Homo sapiens: one gene and its partners. The protein of the gene in region 3 purifies or fractionates together with the protein of the main gene of each other region. This does not show direct contact. Each region holds a gene or a part of one and is shown on either strand. Other genes may lie near its edges.

Region 1 (3,500 bases), on a different chromosome or scaffold from region 3:
GTTGAGGCGGTGGGGGGGCATCACTTGATCCCGGGAGGTGGAGTTAGCGGGGAGCCAAGTTTGTGCCACTGCACTCCAGCCTGGGTGACAGAACGATACTCTTGTCTCAAAAAAAAAAAGTTTTAGCTGGGTACAGTGGCTCATGCCTGTAATATCAACACTTTGAGAGGCCGAAGTGGGTGGATTGCTTGGCCAGGGGTTCAAGACCAGCCTGGGAAACTTAGCAAAACCCTTTCTGTATAAAAAATACAAAACAAATTAGTTGGGCATGGTGGCATACACCTAAAGCCATCCTCCCACCTCAGCTTCCTGAGAGCTGCTTGATCGCTTGAGCCTGAGTTCAAGGCTGCAGTGAGCCGTGATGACACCACTGTCCTCTAGCCTGGGCGACAGAATAAGACCCTGTCTCAAAAAAAAAAAAAAGTTTCATGTTTGTGGTTTGCACAGATTATATTTCCTGTCTCCTTATAAATATAGCTAATGTCTGGAGCTTTGGCTGTCCTTTGGGAGAATGGAATCTTCCTTTAATTGTTTTCTCTCTGTTTTTATAGGAATGATGTATTTAAAATCCACTGGCTGATGGCGGCCCTTCCTTTCACCAAGTCTCTTTCCTTGGTGTTCCATGCAGTATGTATTAGCATTTTGAGGATCATTCATGAAATTACGTATAATGCCTGTGTGAGCAGGCAAAAGAAATTTGAAGAAAGGGGATAGATTGGTGGGAAACAAAGACAAAGAATACATTTCTCATAAAGCCTCCTCTTGTCTGGGAGGGCCTGGCCATGCGGGTAAATGATTACCACCTCCCCTCATATTAGACTTCAGACATCTTCTAATACTGCTTACAGACCTACAGTTTTTCTAGAACACTTATTATTGTTTTTATTTCTTTGTTTTTGGTTTGTTTTGTTTTTTTACCATTTCTAGAGATGAGAGTGCCACCTGCTGACTTGTTTCCACGACTTTTTTTTTTTTTTTTTTTTTTTTTTTTTTTTTTTTTTTTTTTTGAGACGGGGCCTCGCTCTGTTGCCCAGGCTGGAGTGCAGTGGCGTGATCTCTGTTTACTGCAAGCTCCTCCCCTCAGGTTCACGCCATTCTCCTGCCTGAGTCTCCCGAGTAGCTGGGACTACAGGCGCCCGCCACCACGCCCAGCTAATTTTTTTGTATTTTTAGTAGAGACGGGGTTTCACCGTGTTAGCCAGGATGGTCTCGATCTCCTGACCTCGTGATCCGCCCGCCTCAGCCTCCCAAAGTGCTGGGATTACAGGCATGAGCCACCACGCCCGGCCTCCACGACTTTTTTATGTTTCCAGATATTCCCTCATGTTCCTCTGTGATTTGAAGTTCAATTCAGTATTAGCATATTTATCTGAGAGAAAATTGATGCTATAAAGCTGGAGGCATGAGAATTGAGCCTCAGCTTTGTATATTTGGAACTTATGCAAATTAAAATGAACTTGCCCAAGGGGGTAAGATCACAACTTCTCCTGTCTGTGGGCCTCCAAGTGCCCGTGGAGCACACTTGCAAGGATGACAGTCTCTAGACATGTACTCTTTGCTGTACTTGAAAGTGGCCTCCTTGGAAAAGGCAATAATATATCCAGTGGCAGCGTCACCAAATGACAATGATTTGGATAATTTCCCAAATGGGTCCAAGTTAAAAGATTCTTTGTGGAGCCATGTAGATAATGAGTGATTCTGAAATGCAGTTGTTTGATTTCAGATTGACTACCACTACATCTCCTCCCAGGGCTTCCCTATCGAAGGCTGGGCTGTTGTGTACTACATAACTCACCTGTAAGTATGCAGGTCCATGTGAAATACACCATGAAATGACATACAAGACAAGGGGGGTGGGCAACAACCTGCCCCAAGTTAACCAGCCCTGCCCTCCTGTGGCAGCCTGTCTGGGCCCCTGCCATACCAGAGGAGTGTAGCTCATGGGTGGCTGTCCAGACTTGGGAAGTCGGGCTTAGTGGCATACTCCTGCCTCTCTGCGGCCATTGGCTGTCCAGGCTGTGGGGTGCAGAGCTAACTGTGTGCCCTGAAGGAAGTGGTGCTCATGTATGATGGATTTCCTAAATTTGGCTGCCCGTCTTTTGTAAGAAGCTTGTGAACTCATAGAATGAGCTATGCAATCTAACTGGCAGTGAGAGTCTAAAGAGACCTGCTGGTGTCTGTTCCTTGTTTTCTCTTCCAGTTTGAAAGGGGCGCTACTCTTCATCACCATTGCACTCATTGGCACTGGCTGGGCTTTCATTAAGCACATCCTTTCTGATAAAGACAAAAAGATCTTCATGATTGTCATTCCACTCCAGGTAAAAGAACCCTCATCCCATTTGTCACTTCCTTTCTTGGCGCTTAGCAGGGCTCAGCTCCAAGCCTGTATGGGAAGAGGGAGTCACCTCACCCTGAAACCCCAGCTTCTGCTAGTGGAGGTTGAAGACTGAGATTCTCTTTCTGAATTCTGAACAGACTTCAGGTCATTGCACTGGGAGATGCTTGGGCATCAGTCAGCCACTGGCCTTTGGGGGCCTAGATTTTGAGTAGAGAGCTGCTGACAGTGACAGGGAGACACACAGTAACACACAGTACTGTTTTCTCTTCTGCATCATTTGCTTCATAACTAAATGGTGCCCTTGGCAAGGAAGCTCAGAGATGTAGTGATTTTATTAACAAAGTATTTTAAAACCGTGAACTACACCAGTGAGTTTCCACAGGTAGAATATGGTAGTAGACGTGAGGGGCAAACATTTCCTAAATCCTTACCATGTTTGGGGCCGAGGGCCAAGGCCAGCCTTACAAGGCTGTGAGTCTTTTGCGGGAGGAGCCTTGTCTTACTGGAAGCAGAACTTGGATGTAAAGAACTTACAATGAACAGAGAGGTTTTAGCAGGGATGCACAGCTACCCTGCTCTGCTTGACCAGACAGCGTCTGTTTGACAGAGTTGTCCCTGTGAACTTTTCTCACATTTTGGAGCACAAAGTAAATGTGGAAGGTTGGGGGTGGAAGGGGACAACTCCTGAGGCACCCAGATCAGCCGTCCCAACTCTGGCAGAGTTTGCAGCAGAGCTCCTCTCGGAGTTCTAACAGACCTCATCCACCCTTACGTTCAATAATGAGGAACATGTGTTGACATCAAATGAATGGGACAGGCCAGTTGCTCTGTGTTTCCAAGGAGAGAATAAGCACTCAAGTTGGAAGGATCAAGGAGGGCTTTGTGACAGAGATAGGGCTGGCCTGGGTGTTGAAGGAAAGGAATGTGACAGAGGCAGTAAATACACATGACCCTGCTGTCTGCTAAGCAAAACATGCTGAGGGACTGTGCCGGTCTTTCGGCTGTCGAGCCACCGTGGTCACTTCTTCAGCCAGACTGAGTCCTACAGCCTGCCGAGGTCTCGGAGTTGTGAATGACGGAGACTGGGTTGTCACCCGGCTGCGTGTGCCTCTTCCCTTTAGTAGAGTCCCTCATCCCTCTAGAGTCTCCCCCCACCAGCCTG
Region 2 (3,500 bases), on a different chromosome or scaffold from region 3:
TGCTAAGCATGACAGAAATAATTCTCTGGAAAATGAAATGAGATTGCTCTTTATTAGTGTTTCCCAGAACTCCCATGTCTAGAATGATCTGGTTTTGGATTTAGCTCATGGAGCCATTTATTTGGAAGTCCCTGCTGTGTTGGAAGACTCAGCCTGTTTCTGGGTTTGATGGTAGACGTTCGTGCTTTATCCTAAAGAGACAAGATCACACTTGCCCGTGAGTGTGTGGCCAGCTGCTGGGATGAGAAGGACCTCCAGGCCCCATGCATTTTGAGTGTAGCAGGCACTCGGTCATCTGATATCTACCTGCATGTCTCACTTATGCAGTCCTCTGATTGAGAACAAAGTAACTTTTACTATGTGTGGGCAAGGCTTGGAATCAAGTCTGGTATATCTGATTTCAAGGAAAAAATACTAAAATCACTAGGAGTTTGAAAAGCAGTCACTCATAAAGAGATTGTCCTGTGGTTCTGAGGACCACACACAGCTTGGATGGATGAGGACCAGACACAGCTGATGTGGACAATTCCCCTGTAGCCAAGCTGGGTCTGATAATGGTTAGGCCTTTCTGTTCAATGCGGAGGACAGGTTCAAGGCCACTGCTGCCACCACCAGCAGGGAATCACCCTGGGCACATCAGAACCTGGGGGATGCAGGTGTCCTCTATGGGGACAGCAATAAAACTTGGATAGGAGGCCGGACGTGGTGGCTCACGCCTGTAATCCCAGCACTTTGGGAGGCTGAGGCAGGCGGATCACCTGAGGTCAGGAGTTTGAGCCCAGCCTGGCCAACATGTTGAAACTCAGTCTCTACTAAAAATACAAAAATTAACTAGGCGTGGTGGCGCATGCCTGTCGTCTCAGCTACTTGGGAGGCTGAGGCAAGAGAATCACTTGAACCTGGGAGGCAGAGGTTGCAGTGAGCCAAGATCGTGCCGCTGCACTCCAGCCTGGGTGACAGAGCGAGACTCCATCTCAAAAAAAAAAAAAAAAAAAAAATCTGACTTGACAACAAAAAATGACCAGGCAGACATTTATGTTTCTGACATAGAAAAATGTTCATAAAGCTAACTGAAACAAGCAGGATAGAGTATAATCCCTTTTTTTTGTAAATCAAAACACACATAAATATATTTATATATGTAAATAAACTTACAGGAGAAAATAACTGTGGTGATTATCTGAGTAATGGATGGGGTTTGGGGTAATTTTAACATTTTTCTTTTTGTTTATCTCACGGTTCCCTAATTCTTTCAATGACTGCGTCTTACTTCTGTCGGATGAAATCACACATAAGATTGCAGGTGCTGAGCTCCCAGGCAGGAGCTGTTTGTATTGGCCCACGTGTGAAGCCCACCACCAGCCAGAGATGGAGGCAAGATGAAGCAGTTGATAGAGAAAGGACTTTCATTTCTGGAGTGTCTCAGCAGCTTTGTGTGGAGGATAAGCCACGTGGGTCCAGACCGGATCCGGCAGGCGCCGGATATTAGCTGCTGGGGTGTGGGCCCCGGGGCTTCGTTTTATCTGCTCTCATCAACATTGTGGTGTCTACAGTTATTACTTTTTCTAACATATGACTGATATCAGCACTGATAAGGTCTCCTTTTCATAAATTTACAGGCGTTGCCTTCTTGCCAGCTAGTATCTCTTATCTCATTGGAACCAATATTTTTGGGATACTTGCACACAAAATGGGGAGGTAAGATGATATGAAAACAACACTCATTCTGTTACAATAATGTAGTTCTTTCAAAAAATTCTAAGTTGTTTCTGCCTTTGCTGTTACAAGTAATTGTTTTGATTTTCATTGAAAATTTGGACTAGAAAAAAATCAAATGATCATTTCTTGATGGTGCTTTTTCTTTTGGTAGGTGGCTTTGTGCTCTTCTGGGAATGATAATTGTTGGAGTCAGCATTTTATGTGTGAGTAAAAGATGGCATTTGACAAGTGGGAACAATCTGTGAATAAAACTTGCGCTTTGGGCAAGAATCACCAAGAAACATTTTACGTTTGAGTTTGTTGATGTTTTATTACAGCTTTCATTTTATTCTAATTTTTTATCATCTTAAAAATGTTTGGACAAGACTTTCCAAGGAGTGTATTTTCATTTTATGTCAGAAATTATTTAAAATGTTTTATTTCACAGTTTAACTTTTCCCCTGCATCATCTTAAGCTTGACAGTGTCTTAAACACTTCAGGACAACCAACCTGAAACAATAGCAAGATGTTTTTCTAGAATAAAATCTCTTCTACCAATGGCCAATATCCATCCCTCATGAGGCCTACTTGTTCTTGTCAAAACTTGAGGGTGGACTAGGCTGATCTTTCACATATGCCGGTGACAAGTTTTTCATGGTGGTCATAAAACTCGTTTCAAGCTTTGACTTTTAAAGATTTGGAGGGTCCGGTTCTTCACAAACCCCACCCTTCTTCCTCCTGTTTTCTTCAGAAGGGAACAGGCATACCACGCTCAGAGAAAACACAAGTTCAAGACTTTCCGAGATGATTTAGAGTTGGATCTCTTGTTATTTTAGCATAATGTTTATTTCCTCTTACAGATTCCATTTGCAAAAAACATTTATGGACTCATAGCTCCGAACTTTGGAGTTGGTTTTGCAATTGGTAAGTCACACGAACCTTGTGCCTACATTTAAAACCGCTTTTCCACTAGGAAGGGTTCTTCTTCCTCTGGTAGACTGTAGTTCCTCAACCTAAATTTCCAGAATCTTAGAAGGAGGCTGCAGGCAGCTTAGCTAAATTACAGCCTGTCGATTCTCCGTGTAAAGACACCTGCTTCTATGCACTAGTCATTTATTTCCTGAAAACCAGTATTTTTTAAAAGCTGATATTTACAGAAGGAAACTGATGCTCCACTGCTGGGGCTGGGCAAACAAAGGAATCCCTTGCACAGAGCTCATTTTTGTGGACTCCTCCCTATGAGCAGGTCTTCTCATGAGGCTGGGGGCAAAGGCTTCACATATGTATTTTGAAGAGGTTTTAGTACAGACAAAGCAGACTAATGTGTTGATGACCGCCTGTGCTGCAGGAATTCCCATGGGCAAGGAGATGGGCTTTTGTAATGTTAAGAATGATAATATGTTAGGAAAAATCTGTCACTATTTTGAGTGAATGGTATACTTTTGTCTCTTATTTATAATATACCAATTGATCATGATAAAAATAAGTGCTCAGTCCACCCCTGTAGAAGCAGGAACGCAACCTTTGAGTGGTACAGTGGCACAGCATGGCTTTCACTGAGGACAGATGGTAGAAGGCTGCTGAGGCTGGGGTAGAACTCAGTATGGTACTCTAGGTCCTTCTCAGGTGACCGTTTGCCTGTCCTCTGCCTTGCCTCCCCTTGTCCTCCACTGTCTGGTTGGCCCATCTTTTTAGGGAGGGTGCTAGTCCTCTGGCGGCTCCCCTTGCCATTCTGCAGGTCTGGCAGAGTTGCAGGTTGCTAACTGTACGGCCCCTGGCCTGCATCCTTTTGGTGCTTCCC
Region 3 (3,500 bases):
AGTGCCAAAGTGGACTCCATAACTGTCAAATGAAGGCTGGGTATGATCTTCTCACTTTGGCACATAAGATATCAGTGCCATCCTTTTCATGGCTGTGAAGGCTCGATTGTATGGCTGTGCCTTGATGTATTCAACCAGCACCTGCTGGGGGCTTCTTCAGGTGGTGCTACAGTTGATATCCTCGACCATCCATGCCTTTTTTTTTTTTTTAACTTTTTTTGAGACAGGGTCTCACTCTGTCGCCCAGGCTGAAGTGCAGTGGTACAATCATAGCTCACTACAGCCTGACTTCTTAGGCTCAATCGATCCTTCCACCTCAACCTCCTGAGTAGCTGAGACTATAGGTGTGTACTACCATGCCCAGCTAATTTTTGTATTTTTTGTAGAGACGGAGTCTCTGGGCACCATGTTTCCCAGGCTGGTCTCCAACTCCTGGGCTCAAGCGATCTGCCTGCCTTAGCCTCCCAAATGCTGGGATTACAGGCATGAGCCACTGTGCCCAGCCAGTCCATCTTTTAATAAGCCTGATTTTAAGTCCAGTATTTTCTTGGGACCATGGAGAAATAAGTATTCATAAATAATTTACTGTTTATGTTAACCAAACCTTACAGGATAGTCATATTGTCACCGATTAATAATTTTGCTTTGATTTTAAAAAGTGATTTTTTTTTTTTAAGACGGAGTCTTGCTCTGTCTCCAGGCTGGAGTACAGTGGCGTGATCTTGGCTCACTGCAACCCCCGCATCCCGGGTTCAAGCAATTCTGCCTCAGCCTCCTGAGTAGCTGGGACTACAGACGTGCACCACCAAGCTCAGCTAATTTTTGTATTTTTAGTAGAGACAGGGTTTCACCATGTTGGCCAGGACGGTCTCGATCTCTTGACCTCGCGATCTACCCGCCTCGGCCTCCCAAAGTGCTGGGATTACAGGCATGAGCCACCGTGCCCGGCCAAAAAAGTGATATTTTAATTGCATTTTTAAAATTCTCATTTTTTCCTGAAGTGGATTATGCCTTTAAGGCTGTAGATTTGTGAATTCTGGAAAGTTCAGCAGCTGCAGGGCCCTCTTCTAGTGGCAGACAATGGACCCCATCATCAGCTCCTCTCAGATGGCCATATCAAAGAGGCTGTGCTGTCGAATGCGTCTCTGCTTGAATTAGCATGAATTAACTATTGGCTTTATTCATTATTGTTATTTTACTCGGAGTTGGGGAATGATGGCTAAAAGTTTGTGAATCTATGACTTAAACTCCAAGGATTGGTATAGTAGACCTTTCTGAGATAGTTTCTGAAAAACAGGTTACATATCTCTGCTGCTTTGTGGAAAAGAGGTCAAAGTACTGGTCTGTGATGGGTCCCATTTGAGTGGCTTGTTCTGAAGTTGACCTTTCTGATCACTGATTAGTAGTGAAAAAACTTCCCCTGTGAGGTACAGGCTCTCGTACTTCATTAAAAGAGACTCTCTCTGGACTGAAAAGCAAATAAACTCCCTCTCTGGAACTCCGGATGAAAGCACATCTCTCCTGTTGGAGTATAGTATTGTGTGTGAGAGTGTGTGTGTGTGTGTGTGTGTGTGTGTGTGTGTGCGTGTAGTATTTTTACCACCCACTTTGATAAAGCGTATCTCCACAGCACACAGCACCTTGGCCTGAATCAGCCAAGGACCTATACCTGGGCATTTGGGGGATGCAGTGGCTTGCCTTCTTTTTTCTTTTTGGTAGAGACATGGTCTCACTATGTTGTCCAGGCTGGTCTCAAACTCTTGGCCTCAAGCAATTCTCCTGCCTCAACCTCCCAATGTGCTGGGATTACAAGCATAGTTCTAGGGTACTGGCCAAGTTCTAGGACCTCCTCCCACACCTGCAGAATCAGGAACTCTGGTGGTGAGGGCCCCATATGCATTTTTAAGTCATCATTATATTTTGAGACAGGGTGTTGCTCGGTTGCCCAGGCTGGAGTGCAGTGGCATGATCATAGCTCACCATAGCCTTGAACTCCTGGGCTCCAGCCTTCTTCCTCTCTCAGCCTCCCAAGTCGCTGGGACAACAGGTGTATATCACGGCTAATTTTTTAATTTTTTGTAGAGACACGGTCTCATGATATTGCCCAGGCTGATCTGAAACTCTTAGGCTCAAGCGATCCTCCCGCTTCAACCTCCCGAGTAGCTAGGACTGCAGGTGTGTGCCACCAACCCTGGGTAATTTTTACTGGGTTTTGTAGAGACGGGGGTCTACTAGCTCTGTTGTCCAGGCTGATCTCGAACTCCTGGCCTCAAGCAATCCTCCCACCACTTCAGCCTCTCAAAGCACTGGGATTCTGCTTTCTGACGACCCCTCATGTGCAGAATCTGGGTGGTGGCCTCTGAGGTTTTCTAACCCAGCAGACATGGCTTGAGGATGTCAAAAGTTTGGTTCCCTCAACAGCTATATACTTTGAGTGCCTGCTTGGTGCTAGGCGGAAACCAGAGGCTAGGGGATTTTGTTCTTGGCTGTACAAGCCTTTTGGAGGACTATGGCAGCTATTTCGTGTTTGCTGAGAATCTGTTTTCTTTTTGGAGGACTGAAGATAACTAAGTGATGTGCTGCTTTGAAATCAGAGAAGTGCAAGAAGCGCCAGGATCCAAAGAGCTCTAGAGATACAGAGAGTGGGAGTGAGGATATGTAAGAGTCTGGAAAATAGCAGAGGTGATCCAGGCTTTGGTTTCAGTTCCCATTTCATTTTGGAGGCCAGTCATTTGCTTTGAATGGGGTCTACTGCCCAAGGTTACTGGGTGCTGCATTTCCCAAGGGCAGTGGTGTGAGGTACTGAAGCTTAGGGGTCAGAAGTCCGGCTGAGTGTTACCTCACTCTTGAGACAAATTACTCAACTTCTCTGTGCTGCTTCCCTTGTCTGTGAAATAAATCCAAGCTCTGCAGGGCAAGGCCCATGTGTGTTCATTCTCCAGTGTGTCCCCAGCACTCCTCACAGGGCCTGTCACAGAGTTAGCATCCAATGTCTAATTACCCAGGTCACATTCTTGTATCTCACATTGAGGACTTGGGCTGAACAGGGTTTTTATGTTTTGATCACAAAGTATCGCTTAACTAACTAATTATTGTCTTCAAAAAACATACATCTCCTGAGTTGTTTCTTACCTTTCTGCTCAGGGTAAGGGGACAGGGACATTCCCATGGTCTCCAGGTAGCATTCGATGTTATGAAAACCTGGATTCCAGGAGCTCAGGTTCTTTCTGTGAGTTGATGTTCATGGCCGCTGTTTTGGGAGCAGCCTTGTCCAGGGCAAGGTCACCACTGCCCTCCTTTTCCTGTCTCCTCCCCAGGTACAATTTTGTGATGCTGGCCCTGTCCTCCTCATTCCTGGTGTTATCCTATCTCTTGACCCGTTGGTGTGGCAGCGTGGGCTTCATCTTGGCCAACTGCTTTAACATGGGCATTCGGATCACGCAGAGCCTTTGCTTCATCCACCGCTACTACCGAAGGAGCCCCCACAGGCCCCTGGCTGG

What was found.
Region 1: the proteins of RFT1 (region 3) and GPR107 purify together in Homo sapiens (co-immunoprecipitation; one large-scale study listed by IntAct). This does not show direct contact.
Region 2: the proteins of RFT1 (region 3) and SLC18A2 purify together in Homo sapiens (co-immunoprecipitation; one large-scale study listed by IntAct). This does not show direct contact.

The regions. Positions count from the first base shown.
Region 1 is NC_000009.12:130,098,906-130,102,405, forward strand, and holds part of GPR107 (protein GPR107 isoform 3 precursor), read left to right. Parts: intron 1-551; coding exon 552-627; intron 628-1,723; coding exon 1,724-1,797; intron 1,798-2,200; coding exon 2,201-2,318; intron 2,319-3,500. UniProt on the Homo sapiens protein: Has been proposed to act as a receptor for neuronostatin, a peptide derived from the somatostatin/SST precursor.
Region 2 is NC_000010.11:117,265,114-117,268,613, forward strand, and holds part of SLC18A2 (synaptic vesicular amine transporter), read left to right. Parts: intron 1-1,619; coding exon 1,620-1,698; intron 1,699-1,870; coding exon 1,871-1,922; intron 1,923-2,559; coding exon 2,560-2,623; intron 2,624-3,500. UniProt on the Homo sapiens protein: Electrogenic antiporter that exchanges one cationic monoamine with two intravesicular protons across the membrane of secretory and synaptic vesicles.
Region 3 is NC_000003.12:53,092,436-53,095,935, reverse strand, and holds part of RFT1 (man(5)GlcNAc(2)-PP-dolichol translocation protein RFT1), read left to right. Parts: intron 1-3,317; coding exon 3,318-3,500.